Linked DNA regions of Homo sapiens. The protein of the gene in region 1 interacts with the protein of each later gene in a pairwise test. Each region holds a gene or a part of one and is shown on either strand. Other genes may lie near its edges.

Region 1 (7,284 bases):
CAGATCGCCCAGGACCACACCGCAGCGTAACTGCAGGCCTCTCAGCGAAAAAGGGGGAAAGCAAAGACCCGGGTGTGCATCCTCTTCCTCGGCTTCCGCCCCTTTCCGGCGGAGTGGAGATCCTATTCAGAGGGGCCGGTCTCTCTAAATATGCCCCAGGTGAGTTTTCAGGGGAATGGTGCCGGTGGAAACGGTGTCTAGGAAGGCCTTGTGTTCCGGCCTGGGGTGAGGAAGGCTCAGGACAGAGGAGAGCCCATTCTCAGATTGGGGGTGGGGGGAGGGGAGGACCAGCCAGAGCTTGGAATCGGGATCTGACTGCTGTAGCTGCCTCTGTGGCATTCAGCGGCTTTTTCCCTTTTCCACCCAGGGTAAAACCAGCTAGTTGGACTTAGTCGTCCAGGCCTTTCCCATTGGTCCCGGTTCTGTGGACGTTTCCCAAGGCCGGTAACTTTGGGGCGGCTGTATCCGGGTGGTACAGACTGTGCCTGGAGCTCCCGCAGGAGGAAGGCGGCAGCCTTCCTGGCTAGTGCAGTCCCAGCTCGAGTGGGCCCTGATCCCAGGCCTGAGGCCTAGGGTGGGGAGGCAGGAACACCCCTCTTCTCCGGTAGAGGCGAGGATGGTGGTGCTGTTCCCTGGTGGGTTTGGTACTTGTGCAGGCTTGGGGCTTCTCCAGGGTGTTGTGCTGGTGTGGGCCCAGAAGAGAGACCAGAGGCTGGGTCTAAGGGCCTGAGGCTGTTTTCATCTAAGAAATTCTCTGTATGGGGGATTGGGTCTGCTTGAGACCTGTCCCCAGGAAGAATCTCCTGGGGTCTTCTGTCTTGTTCTGGCACAGGTGGAAATATTCTGGCTGTCTGGCAACTGCAGATGAGGATTTCCTGTTGGGGGCTATAAGCAGGGTCTCCGTAGTACAAAGAGAGAGGAGCTGTAGTCGTCAAATACTCTAGAACGATTCAGTCTAAAATCTCCCTCCTCCTTCATTCTCCCCAAATAAAAACAAACAAAATCTCTCGGGCGTTCCTTTCTGTAATCCAAATCAAGTGATGCAGCTTAGTCGCCAACAACCATCAGTGTTTGTGAGTGGCTTCTTTGGGGCATGGACCTCTGGCTGGTAATCCTAAACCGGCAGGATTTTCCTAAAATGTGGGGAGGAGCCGGGAGAGGTCCTCCACAGATCCTGGGATCCAATCATATATTTCTTACAAGGAACCTTGGCGATGGGATATTTATAGGTGTCTGGAGAGGACATTTGTGGCCAGGGTCAATTCATCTGGAATATGTACTCCCATTGCCTCTCAGGAATCCACCGCTAGAGCAGGAGCCTAAGAATTAATTGGAGGGTAAAAATGTGTCATAACAGAGCTTGAGCTCAGTCTGCAACTGCAGTGCACACTGTCACTCGGTTAGAAGCTGGGGCTTAAGCATGGATCACTGGGCTCACACCGGTGTGTCAGGACGGAGAGCAGTGAGGTAGGGAACCAATACCTTGAAGCTTGTATGTTTCCCAGGGGTTGGTATATTTCTGGCACATTTCGCTGCTGCTGGGAGCAAGAGGACCTGGCTGATATACTTCTGGTGCATTTCCAGTGGCCTTGGTGTCTTGGTGGTTGCATTCTATGGATAGAGACCTATTGTCTCCACCAAAATCATAAACTCACTTCCAATGAAGTGTCAGGGACCTACTGCCTTTACAGCTTGTATACACCAGGACTTAGGGAATTTTGTGGTTTCTGTGCCAGACCTGGGGGGCTGGCATTCCCAAAGAAGGTGTACAGCAGTCTGAATCTTGACTCTCTGTCATCCTGGGTGTCTAGTGGCAATTGAGCCAAGCTCCAGAGGAGGCTGCAGATGATCCATTCTCCCTTCTGGGGTGGGAGGGATGGTTCCTAGGATGACTCCTGTCCAGAGCATTGCAGTGGCAGTATGGGAGCTCAATGGCTGCTATGTATGATTTAGATGGACTCTGCATGGGGGTAAATTGTTTTTTTGTATTTGTTTTCTTCTTTTAAATACCCAATTATATAATTCAGAGAGCAGAAAGCTTATTTTAAACAACTTATGTGGTGTTGATCATATATGTACAACTCACAACTCACAAACTCTGGCCCTTGAGTCTCCTGATTTTTCTGTTTTGGTTCTTGCTGGTGCCCAGCTCTATCTGGATGAAGCCAGGTGATGGAAGAGCCCCAGCACACCTGTGGGAAGTAGAGTGGCTGTGGTCATCTCGGAGTATGCTTGTGGGGTCACAAGGTGGTTTCACTGCTCTGGGAATACAGGAGGGTTGAGCAAAGTGAGATTATTGCTCTGGTCTGGCTCTCTCACAGATAGGCTGTGAGTGACTTGACATTCGGCCAGGCAGTTTTCTCACTGGCCCATTCTCCTTGTTAATAATGTTTACTTGAACGTTTGCACAGCACTTTCAAATGCATAAAGGAGGTATTCCTCCCATTTCCCAAAGAACACCAAGGCAGGAGATGGCGGTGAGGGGGGCTGGAAGAGTTCAAGGGCCTCATGACATCCTGTCCTGCTCTTGGATGGGAGTCCAGACCCCACTGGCCTCAGGGAACCCTTCAAATGCCCAGCTCCATTCTACCTCAGCCAGGCCTCTCTTTGAGACTCGACCTCACTTCAGAGTCCAGCTGAGCAGAACGAGGTGGACTGTGCAGGGAGGTTGGGCCAGCACCATCTTCTTCCCTTGGCGACCTCTCATCTCTGTCTGAGTGGGAGTAAAGATCCGCTGGGCGGGCAGAGGACTCACAGTGGATTTGCTCAGTGTAGACAGACACTCCCTCACTCCCCAGCGGGGGCGAATGTGTGTGTGTGTGTGTGTGGAGGGAGCTGGTTCCTCGGGATTATTCTCTGCCAGCTCTGGCGGAGTGGATCCCAGTCCCCGTAGCCTCCACTTTCTAATTCCCTACTTCCATCCGCACCGGGTTTCTGGGTGTGTGCCTGTAGGTGGGCTGGGAATATTGCTGAGAGGCCAAGGGAGGTTCCTAAAGCAACGAACCCCTGCCTGACAGATTCCCCGCTAAAACCAAAGAGCACGATCCGGAATTTGTTCCCTCCTCTTCCCTTTAGGCCTGAGAAAGGGGACAGAGTAATCTCTTTCTTGCCTCCTTGTACATTTCCTTCCTCCTGATTTCCCCTTCTGTGTTTCTGTCGCTGGCTGTATTCCTTTTCTTCCGGTGTCTCTGTCGTCTTCCTCCATCTCTGTCCTTTTGGCCCTCAGTCTCTGTGTCTCCCAGGCACCCCTCCCTTCTCCCAATCCAGAGACCCTCTTTCCCTCCCACCCTAGCCCCAACCGGCCTCCCGCCCTAGCCCCACGTGGCGCTAACTTTGTCTGCCTCTTCTCACGTCTCGGTGCGTGAGTTCCTCTCTCTGCCCTTCTCCCCTTTACCCCAGCCCACGTCGGTGGGTCAGGGGCGGTCGTCAGAGCGGGCATCCGCTTGTCTGTCTGTCTGCCCACAGGATGACCGAGCGGCCGCCGAGCGAGGCGGCTCGCAGTGACCCCCAGCTAGAGGGACGGGACGCGGCCGAGGCCAGCATGGCCCCCCCGCACCTGGTCCTGCTGAACGGCGTCGCCAAGGAGACGAGCCGCGCGGCCGCAGCGGAGCCCCCAGTCATCGAACTGGGCGCGCGCGGAGGCCCGGGGGGCGGCCCTGCCGGTGGGGGCGGCGCCGCGAGAGACTTAAAGGGCCGCGACGCGGCGACGGCCGAAGCGCGCCATCGGGTGCCCACCACCGAGCTGTGCAGACCTCCCGGGCCCGCCCCGGCCCCCGCGCCCGCCTCGGTTACAGCGGAGCTGCCCGGCGACGGCCGCATGGTGCAGCTGAGTCCTCCCGCGCTGGCTGCCCCCGCCGCCCCCGGCCGCGCGCTGCTCTACAGCCTCAGCCAGCCGCTGGCCTCTCTCGGCAGGTCAGGGGCCAGGGGCCAGGGGCCAGGGGCTGGGCGGGTGGGCAGGGCGACCACCCCCACCGGGGTTTCCTTCTACACATCGGCGGCGGCCTGCCCTGGGGGCCGAGCGGGTGGAGCGCAGGGAGAGGAGGTCGTTTTAAACCCAGTGGCTCTAGAGCCTCAAGCTGGAGCCCCCGAGTGAGTGCCAGTGAGGGAGGGGCCTTCTGTGAGAGAGAGTGTGCGTGTGGCTGCGGGGTGCATGGCTGTGTGGAAGCCGAGAGGAGGACGTGGACACCTTCGCGGGTGCAGGCATGTGGCTGGTGTGCTTGGTGGTGGTGTCGTGGGGGACGGAGAGGAAGGAGTCCCCTGAGCGTGGGTACCAGGAAAGAGTGTGCCTGCATGTGCTTTGCTGTGAGCAGAGGTAGATGTTTGTGGTGTGAAATTCATTCGGAAACTCAGCGCTAGCTGGACAGGCAAGAGATAAGGATCTGAGGGTGGTGGCAGAGGCACCCTCCCCCGAATCTCTGCTGGAGGGCCCGCCTGAGGACTGACCTGTCCCTCCACTCCCAGCCCCTCTGCTCCTAGCCGTGGTCTCTGGCCCCAGCCTGTACTCCGGTTGGTGTCAGGGCATCCGTTTCCCTGCTGGCGCTACTGTGATGATGAGGGAGAGAAGCCATAGGGTTGGAATAGAAACCGGCAGATGGGGCAGGGATAGAGTGTGGGGCAGTCAATGAACCTGGCGGGCACCCGAGACAGAGCTATGGGGAGCTTAGGGTGGGTGAGGGCAGAGAGCTAGGCGGAGCATTTCAGCTGAGGGGAGTCAGGGTTTCCTGTCTGTTGTGTATCTACAGCCCCTTATGGGTGGGGTGAGGTGGGGAGAGGGGACAGTGTGCCCCTTTGTGGTGACCAAGATGCACACCATCAGGTGTGAAGGTTACATTTGCCTGAGTGGGCATGTGTTTGGGAGTGGAGGTGTGTGTGGATTATGTGCTTGTTTCTGGGGCGGGAGAATGGAGAGTGTTTCTATCTGTGAAGTGTGTGTGTGTGTGTGTGTGTGTGTTCATTTTTGTGTTTATTCCATGTGTTATTCACCTCTGCTTCTGCATATGTGCCTGTGTTTGTGTGGAGGGATGTGTGGTTAGGTGTCTTTTCCTCCCTTTGCTTGTTTTATGACAGACAGAGTGAGGGCATTCCGTGTGTATGTGTGTGTGTGTGTCTGTGTGTGCCTATTCCCAGCTCAAGTGTGAAGGGACCAGGGTTGCCCAGAGGTGGGGGGCTCAAGACATGTGGGGAGGATCCCTAAGGAAGCTCTTTCTCCCCTCCCCTCAACATGGGATCTTGTGATCTGCCCGTTCCCTCCCACAGCGGGTTCTTTGGGGAGCCGGATGCCTTCCCTATGTTCACCACCAACAATCGAGTGAAGAGGAGACCTTCCCCCTATGAGATGGAGATTACTGATGGTGAGTCTGCCCCACCCCACCGTTGTACCTGCCCCTCACGCTGGTTAGAGCCCTCTGGAGGAGGGAACATCTGGGACTACTCCGTAGGTATCTCACAAAGATGGGCGGGCCACTTTCCAAACCCAAACTGCCGAAGCCCTTCACCCTGCAGCTGAGCTAGGGCTAAGTAAAGTCCTGGATGGGGCTAGCAGGACCACACTCACAGTCCTGCAAAGAGGAGGCATGGGAGAGAGACACATAATGGCGCTTAGCCCAAACCTCTGGAGTTAGTTCCCAAACCTTTGGAGTTAGTTCCAGTCCCCAGTCCGGGCTCCATTCCTACACTTTGGCAAGGATCCCAAGTGGGCGCAGAATCACACAGTGTCCCCCGATCCCCCATTCTAGGCACTGACCCTCAGGGATTCCCTGCACTTCCTCCCAAGTCTTCCTTAGAGTCTGGAGTCTGCTTCCTCCCTGCAATGGAGTCATCAAGGGTTTTCTCCGAGGTCCCTACACAGTAGGCTCCCCTTGTCTCCCGTTAACACATTCTGGGCTTAGACCTGGAGTTCCCTTCCTGACATCATGGATTCTACCTTGCCCCCTGGATTCCCCGAGAAGGGCCTTGGCACTGCTCCTTTGAGGTACTTGAATATTCCCTGAACTTGCAGGGGTGGTTTGGACAAATGGGAGATTTGGAAGACCCTCGCCATCTTTCCAAGGTTGACCTTGTATAGTAGATTGGTCCCAGCACCAGGGGTAGGAGAGCAGGCACTTCAGAGCTGAGGGACTTTGAGCCAGACCCAGATGCCCCCAGAACTTCAGCTTGGCTGTGGCCTGGGGCTCCTGTAGGAAGGCTGCCCAAGGCCTCAGAGCAAGGCTGGGATTTATGCTCCAAACTGGTGGGAGGAATATGAGTATGGAGCTGGAGCCTCTGGAGTGGAGCCCTCTGTGGTGTTCTGGAGAGGAGCGGGGCTGGGATCTGCACAACAGAAAAGACTTCAAAAGACCCAAGCAGCCTGGGGCACAGGTGTGCAGGGCTGAGAGGCAGGGGTGCCTTCTGCTAGATTAGAGAGGAGTTCTCTAGTCTAAGAGAGGTGGGTGTACCAAACAGGAAGAAGACAGGACCAGCCCTGAAGTTCCCCAGGGATGAGGCATTTTCTACAATAGGCAGAAGAGGCAGAGCATAGGGGCGAGGGTTTGTGGGGTGTGCAGGAGTGTAGGGCAGTCATTATCCATAAGTGTTGGCAATATTTACCGAGCACCTACTCAGTGCTGGCCAGAGAGAGGCAGAGGACACCAGGAGGGGTAGACAGACTCAGGAAAGAGGAAGGTGAGGAGAGGGGGTGGTTCTCTGGAATAAAACCAGAGAGGAATAGGCAGACATGTAGGCGAAGGGTAGGGTATGAGTGTGCAGGATGTGTCTAGGGGACACTGAAATTAGAGATTGAACCCAAAAAGAGTCCATAGAAGTAGAACTAATGCAAGATCTAGAGTTAGGACTTGATGTGGATTCCTGTTGCTGAATTGCTACTACCATGTATTGGACACCTACTATGTGCCATGGACTATGTGTGCTTGATTTCTGTTTATTCCTTACCACAAGCTCATGAGGGCAATATTATTGTTTACATCTCACAGATAAGGAAATTGAGGCTGAGAGAGGTTACCCAGCTTGATCAAGGTCACACAGCTAAGTCCTGGGTCACACAGCTAAGTCCTGGACCACCCTCATAACACTGGTCTTAAGCTTTGGAATAAGTCCTGACCACTTCCCCACCATCTCCCCTTCTGGATGTAGTCTAGCTCCAGCTGTGACAGCAGTCATAAGTACCCCCTCCCCAACTAGGAGCTCCCTCAAGATCACCAGCATTAGCCATGGTGGAGGGACTGTCCTCCCTATGTCACTGCTGAGGGATGCTCTCTGTCTGGCCTGGAGGCCTGAAAGCAGCAAGTA
Region 2 (4,633 bases), on another chromosome or scaffold:
TCATTTATCCATCTTTCCTAAAAACCATGAGTTTATACTGTTATCTCTGATTCTAGTTCAATACTACAGGGTTAATTTTTTTTTTTTTTTCTTTTTTTGAGATGGAGTCTCGCTCTGTCGCCCAGGCTAGAGTGCAGTGGCGCCATCTCCGCTCACTGCAAGCTCTGCTTCCCGGGTTCACGCCATTCTCCTGCCTCAGCCTCCTGAGTAGCTGGGACTACAGGCACCCGCCACCACACTCGTCTAATTTTTTATATTTTTAGTAGAGATGGGGTCTCACCGTGTTAGCCAGGATGGTCTTGATCTCCTGACCTCGTGATCCGCCCGCCTCGGCCTCTCAAAGTGCTGGGATTACAGGCGTGAGCCATCATGCCCGGCCACTACAGGGTTCATTTTAGCCTTCCCACTTAGTATTATTTTTGAGACAGGTTCTCTGTCTCCCAGGCTGGAGTGCGGTGGCTCTGTCACAGCTCACTGCAGTCTCGACTTCCCAGGCTCAAGCGATCCTCCTACCTCAGTTTCTGAATAGCTGAGACCATAAGTGTATGCCACCATGCCCAGCAAATTTTTTTTTTATTTGTAGAGACAGGGTCTCCCTATGTTGCCCTGGCTGGTCTCGAACTCCTGGGTTCAAGCGATTCTCCTGCTTTGGCTTCCCAAAGTGCTGGGATTACAGACACTAGCCACTGCACCCGGCCTTCCCCCCCCCCCCCCGCTTTTTTTTTTTTTTTTTTGAGACGGAGTCTTGCTCTGTTGCCCAGGCTGAGTGCAGTGGTGCGATCTCGGCTCACTGCAAGCTCCGCCTCCCGGGTTCATGCCATTCTCCTGCCTCAGCCTCCCGAGTAGCTGGAACTACAGGTGCCTGCCACCATGCCTGGCTAATTTTTTGTATTTTTAGTAGAGACGGGGTTTCACCATGTTAGCCAGGATGGTCTCGATCTCCTGACCTCGTGATCTGTCCACCTCGGCCCCCCAAAGTGTTGGGATTACAGGCGTGAGCCACTGTGCCCGCCGCACTTTTTTTTCTGAATAGGAAAAAGGGTTAAAAACAAAAGAAGAAAATAGGGCTAGGTGTGGTAGCTCACGCCTGTAATCTCAGCACTTTGTGGCCAAGGCAGGAGGACTGCTTGAGTCCAGGAGTGTGAGATCAGACTAGGCAATATAGTGAGACCCCGTTTTTATCAAAAATAAAAAAATTAGCCAGACATGGTACCAGGCACCTGTGGTCCCAGCTACTCAGGAGGCAGAGGTAGGATTGCTTGAGCCCAGGAGGTTGACATTGCAGCGAGCCAAGATAATGATCATGCCCCCTGTACTCTAGCCTGGGCAGCGGACTGAGACCCTTCCTCAAAAAACCAACCAAAGAAAGAAAAAACTTGTTTCTGATCCTAAGAGTACTGAGAGAGTGAAGTCCTTTATTGACCTTCAGATCCTTACATATAAAACAACTATATTCCACATGTAAGTGCTAATTTCCACCACAGTCAAAACATTATGCTTTGGCAGTTACTTTAACTGGTAAAGATGACTTTTGTAAAAAGTTAAACACTGTCCTTTTTCAAACTTTGTAGATTTATATATAGCTCTTTCCTTCTATGGTGGCAAAACATTGTTCAAAACCTTCAGAACTTTAAATTTACCAGGGAATTAAAAAGGGGAGAAAAATGTCTCAGATAAGAAACATATCGAAGCAAACAGGATTTTATTTGCTCTTATTTTACTGTTTTTTTTTTTTTCTTTAATTATTGCACAACTATCTTTTTGGTTTTTTTGAGATAGGGTCTTGTTCTGTTGCCGCCCAGGCTGGAGTCCAGTGGCGTAATCGTGGTTCACTGCAGCCTTGAACTCCTGGGCTCAAGCGATCCTCCCACCTTAGCCTTTTAAATAGCTGGGACTACAGGTGCAAACCACCATGCCTGGCTAATTTTTTCTATTTTTCTAGAGCTAGGGTTTCTCCATGCTGCCCAGACTGGTACAACTCTCTTAATAATAGAAAACTTTCATCTTCAGGCCTAATTAATTATAACATTTATCCCTTTTCCATTTCCTTCATGTCCTTGACCACACTGATCCCTTACTCTGTGCTTTGTGTTTTTTGTGTGTGTGTGTGTTTTTTTTTTTTTTGAGACTGAGAGAGACTCAGTCGCCCAGGCTGGAGTGCAGTGGCGCGATCTTGGCTCACTGCAACCTCCGCCTCCCAGGTTCAAGCGATTCTCCTGCCTCAGCCTCCCAAGTAGCTGGGACTATAGGTGCGCGCTACCACGCCCAGCTAATTTTTTTGTATTTTTAGTAGAGATGGGGTTTCACCATGTTGGCCAGGATGGTCTCGATCTCTTGACCTCATGATCCGCCCGCCTGGGCCTCCCAAATGCTGGAATTACAGGTGTGAGCCACCACGCCTGGCCTAATTTTTGTATTTTTAGTAGAGACAGGGTTTCACCATATTAGCCATGCTGGTCTCGAACTCCTGACCTCGTGATCCGCCCGCCTCAGCCTCCCAAAGTGCTGGAATTAGAGGCATGAGCCACCGTGCCCGGCCTGGAATATAGATTTTTTAAAGAGGTTTTGACTCAATGATAATATAACAACAATATGGCCACCTTTTTTACTCTTGGTACATAGTTCTTAGTCTCTGTGAGGCAGGTCTCGGTGTCTTATTCACCAGTTTTCATCTCTAGCACAACATATTCTTAAGTTTGGAGGCCCATGGATATAAATTACCTTCACATATTCCAGTAAATCGGGAGGACATATCAATTACAGTTTCTGGTTAGGGAGGAAGATTTTCCTGGCATGGCTGAAGAGGGAGGCCCTAATTTCTTGTCAGTACCCACTGATGGTTTCAGGAAACCCAGCAAAAACAGGTATTCTCTAACAGTCTATAAGTGATATTGTATCTGTAAGAATCAGTCTGAAATTTTCAGGGTATTTCTCTATGAAGATTAAAGACGGATTTTTTTTTTTTTTTTTGAGGCGGAGTTTCGCTCGTTGCCCAACCTGGAGTGCAACGGCATGATCTTGGCTCACTGCAACCTCCGCCTCCCGGGTTCAAGCCATTCTTCTGCCTCAGCCTCCCGAGTAGTTGGGATTACAGGCACCCGCCACCATGCCCAGCTAATTTTTGTATTTTTAGTGGAGACGGGGTTTCACCATGTTGGCCAGGCTTTTCTTGAACGCCTGATCTCAGGTGATCCGCACCCTTCGGCCTCCCAAAGTGGTGGGATTACAGGCATGAGCCCCTGCGCCCGGCCCAGAGTATTTCTCTATAACAAATCCATGCTTTCTTTTAATTTTAAACTAGGCTCTTTATACTAAACATGTTTTTTGTCTTTGACTTTCTGCAATAAGAGGAACCACACAACTTCCAGAAGTCTTTACCGGCTTTTATGTTAAGGCTTCAGTGTCTCATGCTGCTAGGGAAGATAAAGCTTTTGTAGGTCTATGGTTCTTAAGGGTATGATACTAAATCTGAGCAGAAGGGTGGCATCCAGGCAAATAGGGCAGAAGCTAGGTTATTATTTACACTGACTGTTCTTTTTCCCTTCCATGCAGTGCTCTGGTCTGGGGTCTCTCTGTGAAACACAATCCTCAGAAAGTGGGTAAAGACCATACGTTGGAGGATGAGGATGTCATTCAAATTGTGAAGAAGTGAAACCTTTCCCTTTTCCCATCTGCCGGACGAACCACAACAGCGTTCCCCATGATCAAGCACCCTACCCCAGTTCTTTCTGGTTTTGGCAGTCACTGGATCAGGATCCAGGGGAGGGAGATGGAGGCACCCAAACTGGAACTTCATTTGTCTTACCTTGGTGTCACCTTGTATGTCGAACTGCATAAAAGATCTGGTAGGCTGGTCAGCTACATGCAGCTCATGTGTCATTGTCAGAATTTGTTTTGGGATGGGCTGAATGAGGAAGGGTATATACGGTGAAGCAGCTACAGAAGGGATCCTTGGGAACTTCATCTTGAGTGTGAAATGGATAAAAATATGACATGCTGCATCTTACTTGATGTTTACTTATGGGAACCCCTTCCAAACTAGATATGGCTTTCAGTCCTTTCAAGTAGTCTTTCCCACATGATACTGGAGAGAGGAAGGACTTTATGTAAGTTAATTGATCACTCCCCGCAAGGCTAACCTATTTTGGGAGATCATGTAATTAAGTACTCCGACCAGGCAGATCAGGGTTTGAAATTGCAGGTCCACCTCTAGTTAGCTGTGGAGCCCTGAACAAATTACCCAACCTTTATGAGCCTCAGTTTCCTCATGTAACATGGGGATAGTAATAGCACTTACTTTCTGCGGTGGTGATTGTTAGTAATGGAGGGAGATGGTACTTATATGTCAAATACTGTGCTAAGCAATTTGTAAGTACTCAATGACTCTTGGCTTTTGTTGCACCGAGCCTTTTACTGGGCTGTCTGCCCTATGCAGAGCACAGCTGTACATCATCAGTGTTGGGTTGAATGTTGAGCTGAACTATGTTGCCACCTGGGCCACTAAAATGCTTTTTTCTTTTTCTTTTTCTTTTTTTTTTTTTGAGATGGAGTTTCGCTCTTGCTGCCCAGGCTGGAGTGCAATGGCATGATCTCGGCTCACCGCAACCTCCGCCTCCCGGGTTCAAGCGATTCT

What was found.
Region 2: the proteins of TAL1 (region 1) and DRG1 interact in a two-hybrid assay, tested with the Homo sapiens proteins (one study listed by BioGRID and IntAct).

The regions. Positions count from the first base shown.
Region 1 is NC_000001.11:47,222,071-47,229,354, reverse strand, and holds part of TAL1 (T-cell acute lymphocytic leukemia protein 1), read left to right. Parts: intron 1-3; 5' UTR 4-159; intron 160-3,465; 5' UTR 3,466-3,466; coding exon 3,467-3,912; coding exon of another isoform or gene 3,913-4,089; intron 4,090-5,256; coding exon 5,257-5,351; intron 5,352-7,284. UniProt on the Homo sapiens protein: Implicated in the genesis of hemopoietic malignancies. It may play an important role in hemopoietic differentiation. Serves as a positive regulator of erythroid differentiation.
Region 2 is NC_000022.11:31,430,320-31,434,952, forward strand, and holds the end of DRG1 (developmentally-regulated GTP-binding protein 1), read left to right. Parts: intron 1-3,552; coding exon 3,553-3,652; 3' UTR 3,653-4,133; downstream 4,134-4,633. UniProt on the Homo sapiens protein: Catalyzes the conversion of GTP to GDP through hydrolysis of the gamma-phosphate bond in GTP. Appears to have an intrinsic GTPase activity that is stimulated by ZC3H15/DFRP1 binding likely by increasing the affinity for the potassium ions.